Regions from separate parts of the Homo sapiens genome. Here region 2 is linked to region 1. A link means that fine-mapping ties the variant in region 1 to the expression of a gene that starts in the linked region. Tissue or cell type: whole blood. Region 1 holds a variant in brackets; the other region holds the start of a gene. All regions are shown on one strand. Distances are between the middles of the regions.

Region 1 (8,098 bases):
GAGGTAAACCCAAGACAATCTCAGGCCTCTGGAGTCAGGAGGTAAAATACCAAAGCCTAAAAATAAAAAGGTGGGCTAGTCCCGGAGTGTGTACCGCAGCTGAGAGGGCTGGTTCCGTCCCTCCAGCGTTACAGAGCAAGGAGCATTGAGGGCCAGGGGCAGAAACAGGCCTGGGGGGTTGTCCTGGACCTCTGTTCCTGGCCCTAGTCACAGCTCTTTTTGGCTCTACGCTGGGTGGCCTCTGTTTGCCCACATGGAAGCAAGACTTGCTTCTTAAGAGGCAGGTGGGTTGGTGGCAGGTGTGCAGCGTCAGAAGTCATTGAATATTTCTGTCTGTAATGCTTTGCTCTCCTTTAAGGAAGGGCCCCACAGAAGAACCTTGTGCCAATGCAAGTAACTTCTACTTCCACCTGGGGAGACGGATTTAGATGTAGGGCCGCTTGCTGCAGTTTTGGGGAACATGAACATGCTTAGAAATAGTCCTGCTGCCTCCACAGGCATCCTGGGCAAGGCTGGGGACTGTCTTGCCCCCAGGGGGTCCTACCTCACCTCTGACTTGTGGTTTGGTGAGCAAGGAAGGATGGAAGGTGCTATGTCCCCTGGCCCAAGTTGTGTGCTCAAAACAGTGGCATGCCCTGGTGCCTTGGTGCCGGGGCAGCTCCCAGGCCATCCAGCTCCCAGACACAGTCCAGTTTGTGCCTGTCACCAAGCACAAGGTGAGTCTGGAGGGCACCCCTGGCTTCGCAGCGCAGCCACACTGCTCCTGGGCCGAGGAGCACAGAAGGAGAGGGGACTTGGGGTTGCAGGGCATTTTGTCATCTCATTCCTGCCTGTTTCTTCCTAAACTGATTCTCTGAAGGGCATACTCTGCCTCATACCTTCCTTGGCTGTGTTCATTACAGGGTGATGACGGGCCGGACGTCCGCGGAGGATCTGGGGACATCTTACTGGTCCATGCTACTGAGACTGACAGGAAAGGTAGGGTGTCAGTGAGCTCACTAGATTGGGGCTGGTCCTGCCCCGGGTGCCACTCGGCCTCCCACCGCTATCCTGTCCCCTCCTGGCAGCCACAGCCCTGAGCAGGTCTGATCAGCAGTCCTGGTGCGCCTGAGTCAGAGCAGGGAGAGCCCACCTTGGAAGACAAGTAGATCATGTTCAACTCCAGGCGTGCGTGGCATCTGTCCTCCGCTGGTACAAGGTAGTGACCCCAGGGCCTCCAGGGTCCTTGAGGGGCTCAGCGCATACTAAGCGCACCACAGACAGCGCCTTGAGTGATGGCATGTCACCCAGTAGTACTAAACTTAAGATAACATGCAGGTACCTTTTGATTCCTTTCCTGACTGCTGAGTCACTCTATTGTTGCAGACCATTAGACCGGACTTCACTCACATACTCCACGAGGAAATTCTTGAAGGTTTGTTCTGTCCAGGAACCTTCAATTCTGTAGCAGTGGCCTCAGTTTCACAGCACACAGCTGCCCCACCCTACCACGCATTCAGTGTGCTGATTGAGAGGGCTGGAAAAGCAGGGACCGTCCCCTAATCCCTAAAACGTCTTGTTGGGTGGACTCTGCTAGCAAAGTCATTCCCAGTCATGCTCTGGAAAGGAGGTGCTAGTGACCTGATGGGGCATGGCCACAGCACCCTTCACTGCCTGCCCTCAAGGGGCCAGCACCACCTGGCCGGCCAGTCTCTCCACACGCTGCTTCTCTTTTTACGTTTAAAAAAATGATTTAAAAGATGATGTCAGAGCAATGGTGAAGTAAATTGTGGAGGGAATGAAAACACCCCCACCTTGAAATCCTAGCCCAACCCGTTTCATTTCTGTAAGGGACTCTGTCCCTGTGTTTCCTCAGCACGTTTCCCAAAACATGTGACCCAGAGTGACTCGGGGAATTTCTGAATTATGGAAGTAGTACTAAAAAATATTTACATTGCAGAAAATTAGAGAAAAAGAAGAGATGGCTCCCACAAACTCACCGCAGCCACTGCTCCGCCCTCCCCTTCACTGTTCCCTCACCCTTTGTTTGTTCTGACCAGGGCAGGGCCCAGACCTGGCGATGCTGCATCCTAGCCCCAGCTGTGCCATGACAGGCTCAGAGGGCCCCTGGGCAGTCCCCGGGCTTCTCGGCCTGAGCCGACTCCACTTGTTGAAGGGGTGAACGGTGCCTGTTGTTGTGTGGATTACGTGAGGGAGTGTGAAACCTGCCCCGCATGTCAGCGGTGCTGGGGGCGTGATCAGCAGCATCCTGAGCGCCGAGTGCAGCCCTTGCTTGGCTTCTCTGCAGTGAATCCCCCTCCCTGCCTGACATAGGGGGCTCCATACTCAGCCAGGCATGGGAGCGACTTTCATTTCCTTTTTGTCCACAGCGAGGGGCTGAAATGGGAGCTGGCTTCAGACCTCGGCTCCAAAGGGTGAACTCCACTGTCCTGTCGGGTACAGCCAGCTGTGGCCAAGGCTGGAGGGGTCCCTGAGACAGGACAGCCAAGAGGCTTCTGGCTTTTGCTGGCTGGACCTGCTGAGAGGACGCTCCGTGCCGGTGGGAGCTTTGCCTGATTTTACTAGCAGAAGGGTTGGAGGCTCCCCAGAACCAAAGTTTTACGTAGGAAGTATTACTGAGGCAGAAGCCATGGCTCCACTGGGAGGGTGAAGCACCCTGTGGCAGGTAACAAAGCAAGCTCCTTGGGCAGGTGCATCCTGCAAGCCAGAGACTGCACCAGCATCACGAGCAGCTGGGAGCCCCGTGGCTCAGGCCCGTGGAGCCCAGCCTGCCAAGCAGGGCTTGGCAGGGAGAGGCCGTGTGGGGGTGCTTTGTGGTTGCACGGCTCTGCTCTCAGGTGTCAGGACCTGCATGGGAGAAGGTCAGGTCAGCCTTGGCCTCAGGCCTCAGCTTAGATCCTGTCTATCCCTTGACAACTGTGTGCCAAGCCTGTCACTTAGCCCCGGAGCTTCCGATTCCTTAGGAGGAAAATGAGGGACAATTTCGGGGCCTTTTAGGGCTGTCTCAAAGACCAGGTGAGCCAGGGCGCACAGAGTGCTCAGGACCGCATCGAGAGTCCTGTGATCTCTAGAGGGGTGGCACAGCACTGCCCGTCCCAGAAGCCAGGCGCTGTCCCATCTGCCATAATCCAGGGCACAGCAGATGGGGGAGGGCTCTGGAATTGGGCAGACATGGGCGCCGACCCCGCCACATTGCTTGCGGGTGGTGTGGCCTCGTGCCTGGGCTCCTCCTCTCTCGGTAGGGTAACAGGACTCTGTCCTTGTGGGATTGCTCTGGGCATTGAAGGATGTGGCATATGTTCAAGGCATGGCCCAGTGCTCACCAGCGAGTCCCACGAAGTTGTCATGGCTACTGGCAATGATGCACCCGCAAAGGCCAGTTGACTTGGGCCCCTTCTTCCAGAAGCAGGTATGGGTCTATGCTGGTGCCATCTCTGCTTCCTTCCCCAAACTCTTTGAACAAAAATCCAAGCTTGACAGTGAACTGGGTGGGTGTGGGGGCCGAGGAATGAGCCTGAGCACAGTGCGGATGGGCCCTGCTGTGATTCCCAGCCCGGAGCCTCCTTCACCTGCCAGCCCCACCCCACGCAGCCCCCAGTGCAAGAGCAGGCGTGGGTTTTCCTCTCGTTTGATGCAAGAGGGGATGGGGCAAGGGTGGGGGCAGGAGCCAAGCCAGCATGACTCAGCTGGAGATGTGGGTTCCTCGAGATTCCTCTACCCAGCAGCTCGGGAATGAGGGAGAAGGTGGGAGCAGGTGGTCTATGTCCAGAGCACAAGATTTAAGCAGTGCGTGTTTGCACCCAGCCTCACAGTGAGAAGCACAGCTGCGGAGCCTCCTTGGGCCTCACACCTCAGCAGGCACGGGGGGTGGCTGCAGGGAGTGAGTCTGGCCACCCGTTGGCTCAGGCAGTGTCCTACATTTTAAAATTCCACTTCATTCTGTAATATCAGAGACAGCACAGTTGAGAAGGTGTCACCACAGCAAATAAATAGGGCTGTTGTAATTCTGGAAAGTCTGGGAGTCCCTGACTGGTACCAGCCCCCTCTAAGAGGAGGCAGGCATGGAGAGGTGAGGGGTAAGCTGGAGCTGCCAGCCCACACCTGCCCAGTGGCTGGCACCATGCCTCTCCTTGGTACCCGGCCCAAGCCGTGCCTCTTCAGCCTATCCCTTAGGACCCAAAACGTGGAATTTCCCCGGATTTTTCTGATTGGACCCTACCATCTAAAAGTACTGACCAGGCACGGTGGCTCACGCCTGTAATCCCAGCACT[T/A]TGGGAGGCCAAGCTGAGTGAATCACTTGAGGCCAAGAGTTTGAGACTAGCCTGGCCAACATGGTGAAACCTTGTCTGTATTAAAATCAGCCAGGCGTAGTGGCGCGTGCCTGTGGTCCCAGCTACTCGGGAGGCTTGAGGCAGGAGAATCACTTGAACCCAGGAGGCAGAGGTGGCAGTGAACCAAGATCGCACCACTGCACTCCAGCCTGAGTGATAGAGTGAGACCCTGTCTCGAAAATAATAATCATAATAAAAATTTAAAAATAAAAGTAAAGCCTAGGGTTTCATTTCAGGATCCTGCTGACGGGTTTGAACAGACGATTTTCTTTGTTCCCATGATGGCTGAGACCCTCTGAAGCATAAAGCCTTAGGACAGGCAGAGCCTCTCAGAGTCTAATCCAGGGCTGGCTCCTACCTGGAACAGGCATGCCACCGGGTTTTGATGCCTAGGGCAGGCGTCACTCGTCAGCCTAAGTGCCCTTTTCCGCTGGGACCAGAGTTGGCCTCAGCTCCCACAGCACGGTTCTCCAGGCAGCACCATCATCGGTAGAAAGTGCCCATGAGATAAAACCCTTTCCTGTTTCCCCTCTCTGATCTGCCGTTTCCTTTGAGAGATGGACAGAGAGGACGTGTGACTTCTCTGGGACATGCAGGCGGAGACACCAGAGGGGGTTCCCAAGCCCTCGGCTCCCTCGCCCATCCCACTCCCCGTGCCATCTCCCCTGCCTCTCTCAGAGCAAGGACTCAAATCCACCCTGGCTACCACCCCCCAGCACTCTGCACCCAGACAAGCAGTTTGCATTGTTTTTTCCCTCTAGATTTGGTGTTGTACTGCGAGGCATTCCTGACCACCTACAGGACCTTCATCTCCCCAGAGGAGCTCATCAAGAAGCTGCAGTACAGATATCCTTTCCTTCCTGACCCAGGGCCCCTGCACCATGGGCATTTTGGAGAGAGAGGGACCCTCTTGCCCTTCAGTCCTCGTGGGGGAAGCCGAGCAGCATATTGGGTGGCAGTGTGATTGAAGTAGGGACACAGGAGCCCCATGGACCGAGGTTCCCACCTCTACCCTCCCGCATTCCAGCTTTGAGCTCAGGCAAGTTCCTCATCTCTAAAAGGGCCGAGTGAAATGATGTGAAGAGGCTGGAACATAGTCTGGGAATGTGTGTCTGGTGGCAGTTGTGGTCATTGGATGATTCTAAAAACGAATTAGACATGCCCCAGACTGGGAGGGGTAAGTGTGCCGGTCCTGCAGACGCCTCTGAGAGACCCTCATGGTCGGCTCCGGCAGCTTCTCAGAGCTGAGCCCCAGGGCGTTGGGCACGAAGGATACCAAGACCCAAATAGACAGCTCAGGGGTCAGCACAGTCACCTTCCCTGGAGCGGACCCTGCGACTGCCACATCCACAACTGGAATGGGCTCCTGTCCCCAGATCTACCCCATGGGCCCACCCTCAGTAAATGTCACCCTCTGCAGTAGTGGCTGAGGAGGACCCCAGGGGTTTGGAAGGACCCACTTGTGTGACCCATTGCCTCTTCAAGTCCAAACCTGCCCATCCTAAGAGGCTGACCTGCAGCTGCTGCTCTAGGAGGGTAGCCTGGGTCAGCTGCTCCTCAGCCACCTCTTTGCACATAGCCCACGGCTGCCATCTGCTGGGCAGCCACCACCACCTGGGGTAGGAAGTCCTGAGTCCACCCGCGCCCCCGCTCCTTCCTGTGTGCCCTGAGCCTTCACTGCTCCACTCAGGGCCTCCTGCAGACCTCCTGGCCTCCTATTCTCCCCTCGTGTTGACCTTTAGAATCCCTGATCTATCAAGACAGACGTGGACATCCTCCATTGGCGGAGCCTCGGGTCCCCGGCAAGTTCTGTTACTCAGAGCACCTGCTCACAGGCCTGACTCAGTGAATGGCTGTCACTCACACGTGTCAAGGACTTGCTGGTCAGGCGAGATGTGCTTTACACCTGTGCTTTCACCTAGCCCTAGCTCTATGACCATTTTTTAATATGTGTGTGTGGGTGTGTATAAAATTACCATATTATACATGGGGCCACTGCTCTATAACTCCCTATTGTGTAATTGAGGAAACCGAGGCCCAGAGACATGAAGGACCTGACCCATGTGGCTGCTTGGTGGGAGAGCAGCCACACGCTGCTTGCCCCCTGCTGCCTGCGCCCAGGCTCTCAGCCTCTGCCTGGCTCAGCCATCATGGAAATATTGCAGCATCAAGGTCTGGGCCTGGTTGGCTGGCGACCCCTGTGCTGTGGGCCAAGACACAGTCCCTGGTACGTTGCTCTGTCCTGAGCCCCATGACTTGGAAGGTCGTGGATCACTAGAGAGCAGGCAGGAGGGTGTCAGAGAGATCTGGGGAGTCGATGGCGAGCACAACAGCCGGGCAGGAAACCCTGACCACAAAGCAGAGCCCGACCTCAGGGCATGAGCTAGAGCTGATCGGGTGCTTGAAGTGCTGCCCTGGAGACAGGGAGCCAATGTGGAGCGTGCTGCAGCTCTGGGAAGAGAGACCCGGCCCGGTGTCACGGAGGTGAGAGTTCCCTTGCAGAGCCCAGGGAGGCAGCCTCAGGATGGAAACTCACAGAAAGACTGGAGGGAGATACTTCTGGCCTACACACCTGCCTAGGGACCTGGGGTTTGGAGGGTGTTTGGTTTGGGCCCACCGTTCTCTACCTAAAGTTCAGCAAGGCACTCTCTACGTGTCTGTAATCTCATGGGCACCTCGGGGTGAACCCGATGGAAAGGCGGGTCTGGACAGTGCAGCGGAGATGGCGTGGCAGGGAGGAGAGGGCAGCAGCCGGGGGCATCCCTGGGGACAGACGCCTGTGCTCAAATCCTGGCTTTGCAGTTGTTCCACTGCGCTAGTCCCGTGCCCTCGTTTCTGGATGCCAGTGCTTTACATGCAGGAAGATGGGCACATTGTGAGCGCTCAGTGAGTGGTCACCAGGAGTCAGTCCTCCACTCCACCACCCTCAGCCGACCACATGGCTATTTCTTTAACCCGTGCTCCACATATGAGAAATTCTCTCCCTTTGCCGACACATTCAAGAAGCGCGTCAGCAAGAACACGTTCTTCGTGCTGGTACGGGTGGTGGATGAGCTCTGGTGAGTGCTTCACCCTTGGGGTCCTGGGGGCCAGTGGGGAGGCAAAGGCTCCATTCCACCTGCTTCTCCTGCCCATCGGCTCTGGGCAGAGCTGGCTCTTGCCTGCTCTATCTTGGTCCTTTGAGAGAATGGCCTGTGCCCGATAGACCAGGGTGAGATGGGTGAGGTGTCTCTCCACCCTGCACCCAGGCCCTGGATTTCCTCATGAGGTCCCTCCTGGACCCTCAGGAGAGAACCCGCCCAACGCACCTGCTCCCATGGTATCTTAGGTCCAGTCTCCAGCAGGCCGTGCTCTCAGCCGCCAGCCATGGTGGAGGCTGTGTGGAGGCTGGAATGGGAGAGGCCACCTCTCCCTCGCTCCTCAGTGTTTCCATGGCTGGCCATCTGACAGCATGGCACTTGGCCATATCCGTTCCGCTAACAAATCTCCATCAGGCGGACTGCCTTCCTCCTGCTGGGGGAGATGACCATGGTAAGTGGCTGTGCGGCTGGGAAATGGCCACGTGTGGACAGTGCTCAGCAGGGCAAGTTGGGGAGCATCTAGTCTGAGAGGCCGGGAAGTCTTGGTGTCTCATTGCCCAATGGGAGCAGCAGCTCCCCAGGGCGGGATTCGTGTAGGACTTGTCCCTGCAGCCCAGGCCCCAGCACAGTCACTGGCGCTTGTCCAGCGCCAACAGATGGCTGTTGAGTGTGTGGCAGGTGCTTGTG
Region 2 (8,098 bases), 150 kb before region 1:
GGAGGGAACATTCTAGACAGCAGGAGCAGCTCATGAGAAGGTTCCAAGTCAGCCAGAACTGGGCTTTGGGAATCCGTTTGCTTCATTACCTTGTGTGTGTTCTACTATAGTTATAAACATCTTTGATGAATAGCCTTTATTAAGTAAGTTCTGTGACCCTGATTTACCATAATGTCCATTTGCAAAGTACTTTGTTGTTTGCAAATCTTTTGTCATTGGATATGTCATAATTTATTAAATATATTTGTGTTCTCACAAACCCCTGACTGCACCTAGTATCCATGCAGTCTAGTTTTCTACTTTTCAACCAGGATTTTGGATTTAAAATATCGGCTCTTCTCAGCTCAGAAGCCTAGAAGGGTTGGGGGCAGCATTGAGTGTGTTTTGGGGTTGGGCCTGGGACCAGGGGCCAGTTTTGCCTGGTAAGGCATCTGCCAAGAGGGCTGAACAGGGCCACCCTGGATCAGAGCATCCATTCATCAGGTGGAAGAGGGAAATGAATTTGTCAATCTTTGGATTTGCCTTTGACCTCTAGAGGGCTGCAACTGATGAAATGATGATGGGAAATTTGGCTGCCATCTATGACCATCTCCTTTTTTTTTTTTTTAAAGAGGGAGTCTCGCTCTGTCACCCAGGCTGGAGTGCAGTGGCGCGATCTTGGCTCCCTGCAACCTCTGCCTCCCAGGTTCAAGTGATTCTCGTGCCTCAGCCTCCTGAGTAGCTGGGACTACCAGCGCGCACCACCACGCCCGGCTATTTTTTGTATTTTTAGTAGAGATGGGGTTTCACCATGTTGGCCAGGCTGGTCTCGAACTCCTGAACTCAGGTGATCTACCCACCTCGGCCTCCCAAAGTGCTGGGATTACAGGTGTGAGCCACCACACCCGGCCTGACTAGCTCTTAGTTGTGGAATCGGTGACCCTTTAGACTGTCCAGGGAGATGGGAATAAGAATCTCTCACAACATTAGCAGTTTTTCCTCCTCCCTGCACCTCCCCCAAATCCTGTCCCCATCACTAGGTTATTTAATTTACTTATTTTGGGGGAAACAGGAGGGAAAACTAGCCCAGGTGGTGCGTGCTACTTCTTTGTATTCCATCTTAGACTAACAACAGGAAGCAGGCAGCAGAATTGCCCCACATTGGAACATCACTTGCGTTACTAATTTGTTGTTATTTACTACTTGTATTATAGGATTTAACTTTGACTTCCCAGCTAAGTTGTGAACTCTTTGGAGGGAAGCACCAATTGTGCCCACTTTTGTAGGGCCCACAGAACCCGAAATAGTGCTTAGACTTAGCAGATCCTTTGATTCTTAAATGACTTTTTTTTTCCTTTTTTTTTTTTTTTTTTTTAGCCAGGGTCTTCCTCTGTCACTCAGGCTGGAGTGCAGTGGTGCAATCATGACTCCCTGAAACCTCTGCCTCCAGGGCTCAAGTGATTCTCCCTCATCAGCCTCTCAAGTAACTGGGACTACAGGCAGGTGCCGCCGTGCCTGGCTAATTTTTGTATTTTTAGTAGAGACGGAGTTTCACACATTGCCCAGGCTGGTCTCGAACCCCTGGGCTCAAGTCATCCACCCACCTCAGCCTCCCAAAGTGCTGTGATTGCAGCCGTGAGCCACTGTGCCCAACCACGACTTTTTTTTTTTTTTTGAGACGGAGTCTCGCTCTGGAGCCACCAGGCTGGAGTACAGTGGCATGATCTCGGTTCACTGCAACCTCCATGTCCTGGGTTCAAGAGATTCTCCTGCCTCAGCCTCCCAAGTAGCTGGGACTACAGGCGTGTGCCACCATGCCCACCTAATTTTTGTATTTTTAGTAGAGATGGGGTTTCACCATGTTGGCCAGGATGGTCTCAATCTCTTGACCTCGTGATCCACCTGCCTCGGCCTCCCAAAGTGCTGGGATTACAGGCGTGAGCCACCGTGCCCAGCCACGACTTTTAATGAACTCATTTCCACACTAGAAAAGTTCCACAGCTGAGCCCCAGGGTGCCCTTCTGGATGTCAAATAAGCAGGGCAGGCAGGGTGTGCTGTGTCCCTGAGGGAGTTGGGCCCAGGCCAGCATGGAGGCTCTAGGCCTCAGGGGACATTTAGGCCTGAGTAGGGCCAACCCCAGCCCGGGACAGGTGGCTCTCGCTGGCAGGGTGACTGAGTCCCACATGCAGGGCTGGGGTGGAGAATGAATCCTCCGCCTTGGCATAGACCTTGGGCCAGCAGAGGGCTTTCATGCCAGAGTGGACTCATTCCCCGGCTGGAGCCTCTGGGCTGGCAGGAGGTGCTATGAGGCCACTCCCAGGCCCTGGTGTGGGGTCTCCAATTAAGAAGGGGGTGCGGGCAGGGTGCAGTGGTTCACACCTGTAATCCCAGCACTTTGGGAGGCCAAGGTGGGTGGATCATGAGGTCAGAAGATCGAGACCAGCCTGGCCAACATGGCGAAACCCCGTTTCTACTAAAAATACAAAAATTAGCTGGGCATGGTGGCATGTGCCTGTAATCCCAGCTACTCAGGAGGCTGAGGCAGGAGAATTGCTTGAACCCGGCAGGCAGAGGTTGCAGTGAGTCGAGATCGCGCCACTGCTCTCCAGCCTGGCGACAAAGTGAGACTCGGTCTCAAAAACAAAAAACAAAACAAAAAAGGGGGTGCTGCATCTCTGGTTTGGGGGAGGTCAGGACAGGCTCCCAGCCAGCAGAGCTTGTTGAGTCCTGGTGAGAGTGAGTTCTAGGCCCTGGTGTGGAGCCTCTGGCCCACAGGGGATGCTGGGTCCGGGATGATGCTAGGGTGGGGTGGGCGTCAGTTCCACGTCCTGGGGTGGAAAATCTGACCCAGGAGGGTTCTCTGTGTCTCTGGTGAGGGGGCAGGCCAGGCTCTTGGGCAACCGAGGACCCTGGGTTGGAGCTGTCAGTCCCAGGTCTGGAGCTGGTGACTCTGGTCCCACAGCAGAGGAATGCGGAGTCCCAGGCGGGGTCGGCCCCACACCCCAGGCCCCAGGCCCCGGCGTGGGGACTCCGGCTCGGCAGGGGGCGCTGCGTCTCGCGCGTCGCGCGGGAGGCTCGGGCGGCTCCGGGCCCACAGGGGGCGCTGTGGCGGCGCGGCGGGCGCCCGGCAGGTGGCGCTGTGGCCGTGGCCGCGGCCGAGGCCCGGCGGGCGGGCGGGCGGCGTCGCTGCGCTGCGGCCGGCTCGCGGGCCGGGGGAGCGGCGGCGGGCGCGCGGGAGGCGGAGCGGCGGCGGCGGGCGCGGCGGGAGCGGCTGGGCCCGGGCGGGCTGGAGCGCGGTCGCCGAGCGCAGGGCCGCGGCCGCGCGGAGCCCGCCATGCCGGCGCGGGTCTGAGGCGTGGCGAGCCAGGGCCGAGGCGAGCGGCGGGCGCGCCGCCCCTGTCGCCCCGCGGCGGCCCGGCCCGGGCCCGATGAGCGGCGGCCTCGGCCTCCGGCGCAGCCCGGAAATGTCCGGCAAGATCGAGAAAGCAGGTGAGGCGCGGGCGTGGGGCGGCTCCCTCCGGCCGGGCCCGGCCCTGGGGCTCCGCCGCTCCCCGGGCCGAGCGCGGGTCGCCCGGGATGTGCGGCCCTCCGTGCGCCGGGGCGGGGTGAAGCCACCGAGGCCTCGCCGGGGCGCCTGGCAGCTTCTCCTCCAGGCCCATTGCCTGCCGGGCGCGGGGGGAAGCGGCCGCTGCGGGGGCGCCAGGGGCCGGGCCGGGCGGGGCCCCTGCAACCCGGGGCCGGGCGCGCTAGCCGCTCCGCGGTCCCCGGGAACTTCCGAAAATGGCTCGAGCCCCAAGCAGGGGAAGAACAGCCCGGGCCGCGTGCTGCTGCGGCTGCAGCGATCGGTGCCCGGCCTGGGCTCGGCGCTAGGAGGGTGAACCCAGCTGAGCTGTAAAATGTGTCATTTCTAACGAGCTTCGAGTTTAACGAGAAGCGTCCACTTCGGTTGCTTCAAAGGAAGCAGGCTGGATGAGTGGGGGTATTTTGAGGAGGTAGTCAAGTTTCCCCTCCCCACCCCGATCAAGCTCAGCTCTGCAAGGAGGGCAGGTGGGGGACCGGTGGGTTGGAGTAGATGGTAAATCTTGATGCAGACCTCGTCTCTTTGTGTGTTCCTAGAAATCTGGGGGAGTTACCTTCCGAGTCCCTGGGTTTGCCTGTCCTGGAAATAGAGTCTCCAAAGATTCAATGACTGTCGAGCCTGTGGGGCCCCAGGCTTTATTAGCCTGCAGCACCTTGCAGGGCAAATGCGAATTCTTGGGTCTAAGGTGAAGTGGGCGGGTGCTCCTGGGCTCCTGTACTGGGAGCATGCCCTGTGGTCATAACCCCGGTAGCAGGTTAGCTTGGCGGCTGAATGAGGGAAAGCAGATTTTTAGGGAGCTGCAAAGGAGGTCTGTGGCTTTGATTGTGGAAGTTGCTTATGTTTCCTGGGTTGAATCTGGGATACTTCTGTGGGGTGCACCCCTGCAGCGGACCCACAAGGCAATATGACTTTTGCAGGCTGTGGTTGAAGCACAGAAGGACATTTTTGTAGGCTTTATTGAGGGTTTACTATATATCTAACTCTTAGCACCTAAAATGCATTGCTTCTTAAATTTTTGAAGCTAGTCTGTGGGAAAGAATATGGTCCCAGTTTTACAGGCTCAGAGAGGTTCAGTGAGTTCCGGCTGTCCAGACAGCAAGAGGGCGGCAGGCCCCTAGTATATTCATTCCTGGCCCTCTGACCAGAAGCCAGGGTGCTTTTCTCAGGGGCAGGGCGCTTGGGTTCAGGTGCCATTTCTTGAGTATTTTTCTCACTGAATTTGAGCCCCCACAGCCTTGCCGAGTGACCATGAGTCGCCATCCTGTACACCTGCTGCTCCAGAAATAACTTGGGTTCATCTGTGCAGCATTTCTCAGGAACTTCTTGTATAGTGTCTTGTCAGAACGGTACTGTTGGGAAACTTGGATAATTTATTTTAAAAAGAACATTCACTGAGTTCTTTTATAAGAACTTTATAATATATAAGATTATATTATATCTTTTTATATCTAATATAAGATTATATTATGTTTTATATCTTTATAATATAAGAATATTCTATGTTCATTGTCAAAACTTGGAAATCACAGAAAAGTAAAATGAACCGGATTGGAAATCATCTGTCAGCCAGGTACAGTGGCTCACGCCTGTAATCCCTGCATTTTGGAAGGCCAAGGCAGGAGGATCACTTGAGCCCAGGAGTTTGAAACAAGCCTGGGCAAAATGGCGAGACCTCATTGCTACTTTAAAAAAAATTTTTTTTTTTTTTTTTGAGACGGAGTCTTGCTCTGTTGCCCAGGCTGGAGTGCAGTGGTGCGATCTCGGCTCACTGCAAGCTCCGCCTCCTCCTGGGTTCACGCCATTCTCCTGCCTCAGCCTCCCGAGTAGCTGGGACTGCAGGCGCCTGCCACCACGCCTGGCAAATTTTTTTGTATTTTTAGTAGAGACAGGGTTTCACCGTGTTAGCCAATATGGTCTCGATCTCCTGACCTCGTGATCCGCCCACCTCGGCCTCCCAAAGTGTTGGGATTACATGCGTGAGCCACCGCGCTGGGCCTCTTTTTTTAAAAAAAGGAAAAAGTTGCCTGTCATCCCATGAGCTGCCCAAACCGCTGGGAATGAAATGACTCTTCATTTGAGTTCTCTGCTATTTGGGAGAAAGACCTGAGGCCAGTTCATTTCAGCATAGTTTGTCCTTGGGCCTTTTCTGGGCACCGCCTTCTGCTAGGGGGTTGTAGATGAAAGTGCCTGCTCCCAGAGAAGCTTGTCTAACCTAGCACAGTTTCTAAGCTACCCAGGCTGCCAGACCGAGCGACCGTGCTGCCATGGACACAGGTGAGAGAGGGGTGTCATGAGTGCGGGAATGAGGAAGACACTGGAGGGGACAGTGTTTGTGCTAGGCTCTGAAGAGAGGGCTGAGATATATACCTGGTGGAGACAGGGAGAAAGAGGAGAGAGGGGAAGGGGCTGACCAGGAGCTGCGGAAAGTGTGGGAGGAAGATGCATTTTGTGAGAAGCAGAAAAAGTAAGAGTTCTGAGATTGGCAAGACCAGGGTCAGGACCTCGCCTGCAGATTGGGGATTGCAGATGTGGAGCTGGCTGGAAGTCCAGCCTCCTTGCAGAAGGTCTTTTGCTGCAGTTCATAGGAATCATAGTGAAAGATTACAACTGCCAAGGAAGACTGGGGCGCGCCTGGAGTGAGGATGACCTTTCCTGGTGGTCTCTGCTGGCTATTCTCAGTGAACTTCCCTTTGCATTTAGACGACATTTTGTTAGATTTCTGTTGGAGTTTTTTTAATGGACTTCCCACTATTCAGTCTCCAGAGGAGTATTTGATTCAGAGGAGAGGCCCTTAGGTGAAGTGGTGGCAGAGCCTGACACCAGGCAAACAATTGTTGTGATTGGAGTTTTGCTGTTTTGTTATCTCAAAGCAACAGAAACGTTGCTTAAATATGTTCATAATCTCCTCTCCCTGAAAGTAGAAGAACCAGCGTTTTTAGTTCTCAGTGCTTAAGGCATCCAGGGTTTTTTGGGTAAACAGGAAACCCCTTCACATCCCGCATAGTGTGCAGCTCTGGCCTGTTCCTCATCCCGCCCCCTTGCATTGCCTGATACCTCCTTGGTGTGCAGGACTCTCCTTAACCCCTGGGGGAGATCTTTTGAGTCATTGCTGTTCTTTGGGACATTTTCTTTCTCATGCAGCAGTGCCTGGCTGGGGCAGGGCCTTGAGGGGTTCATCCATACCTATGTATATCCTCAGAGAATACACAAGGTCATAGGCCTCACATTTGGGGGTCCCAAGTGCCATGGGGAATCAAGACAGTCTGGGCCAGAGGGTGGCACAGGGACAACTTGCTGGGCTGGTGGGGGCCTGTCAAGTGAGGCCTGGTGGAGAAAGGTTGAATTTGGAGGGCCAGGAACAAGCTGGGATGCAGGGGAGGCTTTCTAAACTCTACAGTGCTTCTAGAGATGACGAGGAGGTAGGGAGTAGAAGAGAGCTGGACAGATTAGGGAGCTCCCAGGGTGAGCTTGTGGGCAGGCCTGCAGAGGAGAAGAGGCTCTTCCCTAGGAGCTCAGAGGGATTTGTTCTGGAAGACTGATGGGAGATGTATGCAGCTGTTTAGAGGCTGCTTTGGAGAACAAATGAACATGGTTCTGGTTGTGCAAGCAGTTACTGTGGTTCTTTTTGCTCATATATCTTCCAATAAAGACATTGAGCGAGGAGAGTTGATACCGTCATGTTTTTGGAGCTTAAGCACAGACTGGCAGCTGCGGGCTGGATTCAGTCCACAGATATGTTGGGTTGGATCCGCACGTGTTCTTGAGGAAAAAAACAAAAGAATTGATGGTCAATATTGAAAAATCAGGAAGTCACTCAAAAATCTCAAAAGCCTGGTTCCTGATTTCCTTGAAAAATGAGAATCTCTGGTAACTCTGAGCGCTTGTTCCTGCCTACAAGGCAGCTATGGGCAGGAGTCAGGTGGCGGACACTCCCACAGAGCCCCTCACCACTCCCACAGCCAGCCACACCTCCGACGGCCCACTTGGACTTTTGACATTTGCGTTTGCATCCCCTCCTCGGAGAAATGATTCATGTTTGTTTGTTTTTGTCTGGACTTTGAAACCTTTGCCCCATCCCTTCATTGACTCATTACTCCATCCCTCATTCATCAGGGATTGAGCACCGGCTCCATCAGGCTCCGTACAAGGCTCTGGGGACTCAGTGGTGAACTCAGCAGATGTCGTGCTGCCTGCCCTGAATACAGGCATCCTCTGTGTGTCACAGGGTGAGCAGGAAGGTGGCAAGAGATCAGACTTGCAGTGGGGAGGGATGGTCAGGAAACTCCTGTGCTCCTGTGACAAAATGGGACTTAAGGTGAGAGGCGGAGGATGGGTCCACTTAGCTGGGCACAGGCAGTGGGGTAGGGGACCAGTCTCCTGGGGTGGGAGCAGACCAAGGCCTCCTCAGCTGAAGGGAAGAAGGTCCTTGGACTGCATGTGTCAGTTTCAGTCACTCATTCCTTTCTTCCCTCCTTCAGTGGCTTCACTCATCGCCTGCCTCACGGAGCAACCTCCTGAGGGCCTGGAGTTGTTCTTGT

What was found. PIP is the estimated chance that this variant, and not a neighbour inherited with it, causes the effect.
Region 2: it holds the start of RAPGEF1, and the variant in region 1 is fine-mapped to the expression of RAPGEF1 in whole blood (TOPMed, PIP above 0.99).

Annotation. Positions count from the first base shown.
Region 1 is chr9:131,589,178-131,597,275 of GRCh38, reverse strand. RAPGEF1 (Rap guanine nucleotide exchange factor 1) reads left to right here. Exons shown (of 27, transcript NM_001377935.1): 17 at 903-978; 18 at 5,093-5,177; 19 at 7,298-7,390. Among named protein-coding and RNA genes, the nearest start is that of PRRT1B, 48 kb to the right of the region's middle. RefSeq lists an enhancer at 7,427-7,926. The variant T/A (reference allele first, on the strand shown) is at 4,272.
Region 2 is chr9:131,735,141-131,743,238 of GRCh38, reverse strand. It overlaps RAPGEF1 (Rap guanine nucleotide exchange factor 1), which reads left to right and starts at 3,163. Exons shown (of 27, transcript NM_001377935.1): 1 at 3,163-3,469. The coding sequence starts at 3,409. RefSeq lists silencers at 2,940-3,199, 3,350-3,399, 3,450-3,779, 7,423-7,717 and enhancers at 7,423-7,717, 8,014-8,098.